Linked DNA regions of Homo sapiens. The protein of the gene in region 2 purifies or fractionates together with the protein of the main gene of each other region. This does not show direct contact. Each region holds a gene or a part of one and is shown on either strand. Other genes may lie near its edges. The genes, in order: DERA and PAAF1.

Region 1 (2,602 bases), on a different chromosome or scaffold from region 2:
AAAAGACTCTCCTGATGAAAATCACCATTCAAAGAAACACATTCTGTAACGTGGTAGAGGTGCTAGCAAGCAGAATCTCCGGAAGAGCGAGGCTGGGACAGACAGAGAGCAAAAAAGCCAGCCACCATGAGGCAGATTACCGTCCTCTCAGCTGATGGGGAGCTCTGTTTATGTACACCTGACTATGTGTACCGAGGGACAGGGAGACATGGGGGTGACTGCACGCACTTGGGAGCCAGCCTGTCTGCTTGGGCTTGATTTTTAACTCTGCTAATTTTGAGCAACCTTTGGCACGTTGCTTAAACTCTTTGTTCCTCATTCCCCTGTCTGTATAAAAGGATGTTTACATGAGTACTTACTGCTATAAGAAGCAAAACCCTTAACTGTATTTACCTTACTATTATGAGGATTAAATGAGAGTTAAATAAATTGATATATGTAAAGCTTATTACACAGCAAGTGCTGTTAATATCTACTGTTTTCCTCCATTCACTATACCAGAAAATTTGAAGTTTCAGAACACATACATAAGTTGCATTCATTAATAACATACTGGGGTGTTTTACAGATATATACCCAAGGAATCAACTAGAGAGATTCAGAGACTCACTGATCAAACCTCTTTTTATGTTTAATGGATTATTTTTTCATTATGTATTGTAACAATTTTTAAGTTTTTTAAAAAAATAAACTATAGGAACTTTATTATTTTAAAAATTTTAATGATATTCATCGTTGTATATGACAATGTCAGAAATTTCATTAGGACAACAATTAATAAAAGCGCCTATCCACGGCAAAAATGAAAGATGAGTTTTCACAGCAGGAAATTAGTGCTGAATCAGTGACTCCTGAAGTCGTTACAGCAGCGCTTGCGAGATGTTGCATTTTCCTCTGCTAGGGCACACTGCTTGGGCGGTTTAATATTGTTTTTTTCTCCCTTAGAATTTGATGTTATCAAAGCTACCATTAACATTTTACTTAAAGTTTTTAGGAGAAACTCTTCACAAAGTTAATAGTGCAGATCTTCTAGTAATTAAGATCATTTCAGATGTGCCTGAAATGAGTACCACATGTGGATGAGTTTGCTTTTTCCATTCCATTAAGTTCGGTAGAAATTTTAAAGAGAGGAATGCCAGTTACCTACTGCCCAATTTTTTAATTAAATAATTTTAGCAATTACGTAGAAAAATAATTTTTAAACATTGTCGTAAAGAACTTTTCTGGAACTGGTGACTGATTTAAGACATTGGAAGATCATGATAAGCTGCATATCTTCCAGTCACATGATGGTAAATCTGTGAGGAAAAGCAGAGTTTAATTAACAATCATTCTATAATTATACACATCAGTTAATAATTATACTATCAAATAATAATAAATAGTTTTAATGAACATTTCATTAGAAAGCCTCACTAGTATGTGCTTCAGCAGAATCTCCACCCTACTCACTTCTGATGGCGGTTTGCTTGGAAGAAAAGGTAGAGGATTGGGTAGGATGAGGTCAATCAGATGAGTTTTTATCTCCAGTTCTCAATTTGACTTTTCAATTCCTTTCTCAAAAAACACTTGTTAATTTATTCCAAAGACAGAGATGATTACTCACCTGCCTCTCAATGTCCGAGAGCAGAGTACTGGCACCTATTCGAAAGAGTTCTGGCTTCAGCCACTCATCTCCAAGCTCCTCCTTTACAAGAGAGAGCCAAGCAAGGGAATCCTTTGCACTGCGGATGCCTCCTGCTGGTTTAAACCCTATCTAAATGGGAAGGCAGAGAATAGAACAATCTTTATTGTTATTGGATTTCTTTTAAAAATAGTACTATGTTTATCAGAGTCTTGATTCTCTCTCTCCCTCTTTTGTTGAAAAAAAATCTTTTCACTTCATCCAGTGAAAGGGCTTAGATCAGTGACTCATGCTCATTCACACTACAAAACAACTTTTCCAAGATTTTTGGAAGAATGTCACTACTTCCAAACAGACACTAGTGAGGGTTAATAACCCTCATTAACATTTCACTTATTGGAAAGTCATAAACCTCCACCATCTAGACTATAGCTGTGAACCTGGAATAAACAAGGAAGGTGTCAATAAATAGGAAAACAGATCACAAAAGCAAAGCCCACTCATTCTACATTTCCACAAGTAAGCCTGTAGAGTCACTTCTCAGCCTTCATCTTGAGGTTCAAAAGACACGTGCATTTAAAATCAAAGGACAGAATCAGCAAGGCTGCAAGGTTACCCTAACCAAACTGGCAGCAAAAAAGCAAGGAAAGTTGACAGTTGTTTTAACCAATTTAACTGTGGGATTTTTTTTCTAAGTTGCAGGCACACACAGTTCTAAAAAGCTGGCAGACCAGTTACATAAGGGCAGTAGAAAAACACCGTGAGGGGCTCCTCATAGTCCAGTAGTCTTTAAGGTTGATCATAACACAGCTGAATTCAGCCAATATCTGATATTCGTAAATGATGTCCCTGGATCCATTAGGAAATGAAAGATATGTTCCATATACAATAAAACTCTGATTATCTGGATTTACATGTTTCAGGAACCTGACTATCCAGTAGAGTTGGGAATCTGTAGATGGTAGTGGTCAAAACAAC
Region 2 (3,827 bases):
GGCCGAGGTGGGAGGATCACTTGAGGCCAAGAGTTCAAGACCAGCCTGGCCAACATGTCGAAACCTCGTTCGTCTCTACTGAAAATACAAAAATTACCCGGGTGTGGTGGCAGGCGCCTGTAATCCCAACTACTCAGGAGGCTGAGGCACAAAAATCACTTGAACCTGGGAGGTGAAGGCTGCAGTGAGGAGCCGAGATTGTGCCACTATACTTCAGCCTAGACGACACAGTGAGACTCTCAAAAAAAAAAGAAAGAAAGAAACATTATACTAAGTGAAAGAAGTCACACAAAAGGCCATGTATTTTATGATTCCATTTATATGAAATGTCCAAAGTAGGCAAATCCACAGAGCTAGAAAGTAAACTAGTGGTTGCTAGGATTGGGGGGTGGAAAGTGACTGTTAATGGGTATAGACTGTTTTGGGGGTGATACTAGAAATAATATATGTAAAGTAACTAGCACATAGATAGCACACATTTTTATCTCAATAAAGCTGTTATTTAAAAACAAAAACAAGAAACAAGATGGTGGATCACACCTAGAGTCCCAGCTACTTGGGAGGCTGAGGGAGGATCACTGGAGACCAGGAGTTCAAATTCAGCACCTGGGAAACACAGCGAGACCCCATGTATTAAAAAATAAACACAGGAGTTCAAGACCAGCCTGGGCAACATAGTGAGACCTTGTCTCTACAAAAAATTTAAAAAATTAGCCAGGTATGGTAGTGCATGACTGTGGTCCCAGCTACTGAGGAGGCTGAAGTGGGAGGATCTCTTGAACCCAGGAGATCAAGGCTGCAGTAAGCCATAATCATGCAACTGTACTCCAGCCTGGGCAACAGGGCAAGACCCTGTCTCAAAAAAATAAGAACAGGCCAGGCACAGTGGCTCACGCCTGTAATCCCAGCACTTTGGGAGGCCGAGGTGGGCGGATCTCAAGGTCAGGAGTTCGAGACCATCCTGCTTAACACGGTGAAACCCCGTCTCTACTAAAAATACAAAAAAATTAGCTGGGCGTGGTGGCGGACACCTGTAATCCCAGCTACTTCGGAGGCTGAGGCAGAAGAATGGCATGAACCTGGAAGGCGGAGCTTGCAGTGAGCCGAGAACATGCCACTGCACTCCAGCCTGGGCAACAGAGCGAGACTCCGTCTCAAAAAAATTAGCCAGGCGTGGTGGCGCATGTCTGAAATCCCAGCTACTTGGGAGGCTGAGGCAGGAGAATCGCTTGAATCCAGGAGGTGGAGGTTGCAGTGAGCGGAGATCGCACCACTGCACTCCAGCCTGGGCGACAAGAGCGAAACTCCATCTCAAAAATAAATAAATAAATAAATAAATAATAAAAATAAAAATAAACACACACAGAAACAAAAACCACCCTCCTCCTTAAGAGTTGACATCATTAACTCCAATTCATAAAGAAAACTGAATCTACAAGTTACCTTCAAAAAAAAAAAAAAAAAAGTGCAGGCACGGTGCCTCACGCCTGTAATCCCAGCACTTTGGGAGGCCAGGGAGCGGATCACGAGGTCAGGAGATGGAGACCATCCTGACTAACACAGTGAAACCCCATCTCTACTAAAAATACAAAAAATTGCGGGGCACAGTGGCTCACGCCTGTAATCCCAGCACTTTGGGAGGCTGAGGCAGGCGGGTCACCTGAGGTTGGGAGTTCGAGACCAGCCTGACCAACATGGAGAAACTCTGTCTCTATTAAAAAAAAAAAATACAAAATTAGCCAGGCATGGTGGCACATGCTTGTAATCCCAGCTACTCGGGAGGCTGAGGCAGGAGAATTGCTTGAATCTGGGAGGCGGAGGTTGCAGTGAGCCAAGATGGCACCATTGCACTTCAGCCTGGACAACAAGAGCAAAGCTCCATCTCAAAAAAAAATACAAAAAATTAGCCGTGCATGGTAGCACGCGCCTGTAGTCCTAGCTACTTGGGAGGCTGAGGCTGGAGAATTGCTTGAACCCAGGAGGCAGAGGTTGCAGTGAGCCAAGATTGCACCACTGCACTCCAGCCTGGGCAACAGAGTGAGACTCCATCTCAAAAACAAACAAACAAACAAACAAAAAAACTCCTTGGTTGTTGAAGGTAGCTTGGTAATTTAAAACAACAACAACAACAACAACATTAAGTTTGTTGCTTTGTAAAGACTTGATAATGTTTTTTTAAAACTGTTTTAGGCCGGGGGCAGTGGCTCACACCTGTAACCCCAGCACTTTGGGAGGCCAAGGCGGGCGGATCACTTGAGCTCAGGAGTTCAAGACCAGCCTGGCCAACATGGTGAAACCCTGTCTCTACTAAAAATACAAAAATTAGCTGGGCATGGTAGTAGTCCCAGCTGTAGTCCCAGCTATTCAGGAGGCTGAGGCACAAGAATCCCTTGAACCTAGGACTGGAGGTTGCAGTGAGCTGAGATCATGCCACTGCATTCCAGCCTAGGTGACAGAGCTAGATTCTGTTTAAAAAATACTGCTTTAATAGTATGTATCGGCAAGAAAAATGCAAAATATTAGGGAAAAGATCTAAAAAAATATAAACCCCAGTTGATGTTTTGCTCTTAGATTGCTTTTTTAGCCTAAGTAAAGATTTGCCTTGCTTTAAAGAAACTGTGCCTTTTGGTTACAGTTTATTACAAGATAGCCAAGGTCCTTGTAATAATAAGTGGACTAATAAAGAGAAGGTGAATTTTAATGTATGTTTATATATTTTAGTTAAAATAAAATGTAGGTCTTTTGTGTATTTTTATTTTATTTATTTATTTATTTAGAGATGGAGTTTCGCTCTTGTTGCCCAGGCTGGAGTGCAATGGCACGATCTCCACTCACTGCAACCTCCACCTGCTGGGTTTAAGCGATTCTCCTGCCTCAGCCTTCCGAGTAGCTGGGATTACAGGCATGCACCACCACGCCCAGGTAATTTTTTGTATTTTTAGTAGAAACAGGGCTTCACCATGTTAGCCAGGCTGGTCTCAAACTCTTGACCTCAGGTGATCCGCCCGCCACAGCCTCCTAAAGTGCTAGGATCACAGGCGTGAGCTGCTGTGCCTGGCTTTTTTTTTTTTTTTTTTTTTTTTTTTTTTCGAGACAGAGTCTTGCTCAGTCATCCAAGCTGGAATGCGGTGGCACTATCTGGTCTCACTGCAAGCCCCGCCTCCCGGGTTCACTCCATTCTCCTGCCTCAGGCTCCCGAGTAGCTGGGACTACAGGGGCCCACCACCACATCCGGCTAATTTTTTGTATTTTTTTTTAGTAGAGCCACCGCACCTGGCTTTTTTTTTTTTTTTTAACTGAGACAGGGTTTTGCTCTGTCTCTCAGGCTGAAGTACAGTGGCACAATCCTAGCTCAAGCAGTTAGAATAGGATTTTTGAACATAATTAAGCACAATAAAATAGGTAAAATAAAATACAGTATTTTCCTTGAATTTTTATGTTAAGTATACATATGTATATGTGTGTGTGTATATATATATATTTGTGTATTTGTGTGTGTGTTTCTTTTTTTAGAGCCAGGGTCTCACTTTCTGGTCCAGGGTAGGAGACCACGCAGCATGATCACGGCTACCCTTGTCCAGGGTAGGAGGTCCAGTAGCATAATCACAGCTCACTGCAGCCTTGACTTGCTGGGCTTGAGCAATCCTCCCACCTCTGCCTCTTGAGTAGCTGGGACTACAGACACCCAACACCATGCCCAGCTAGTTTTATTTGCTGTAGACACGAGGTCTCCCTATGTCTCCCAGGCTGGTCTCAAGCAATCCTCCGCCTTGGCCTCCCAGAATGGTGGATGACAGGTATGAGCCCCCACGTCTGGCCTTATTTTT

What was found.
Region 1: the proteins of PAAF1 (region 2) and DERA purify together in Homo sapiens (affinity purification with mass spectrometry; one large-scale study listed by BioGRID and IntAct). This does not show direct contact.

What each region holds. Positions count from the first base shown.
Region 1 is NC_000012.12:16,035,386-16,037,987, reverse strand, and holds the end of DERA (deoxyribose-phosphate aldolase), read right to left. Parts: intron 1,757-2,602; coding exon 1,607-1,756; intron 1,299-1,606; coding exon 1,242-1,298; 3' UTR 607-1,241; downstream 1-606. UniProt on the Homo sapiens protein: Catalyzes a reversible aldol reaction between acetaldehyde and D-glyceraldehyde 3-phosphate to generate 2-deoxy-D-ribose 5-phosphate. Participates in stress granule (SG) assembly.
Region 2 is NC_000011.10:73,879,950-73,883,776, reverse strand, and holds part of PAAF1 (proteasomal ATPase-associated factor 1), read right to left. Parts: intron 1-3,827. UniProt on the Homo sapiens protein: Inhibits proteasome 26S assembly and proteolytic activity by impairing the association of the 19S regulatory complex with the 20S core.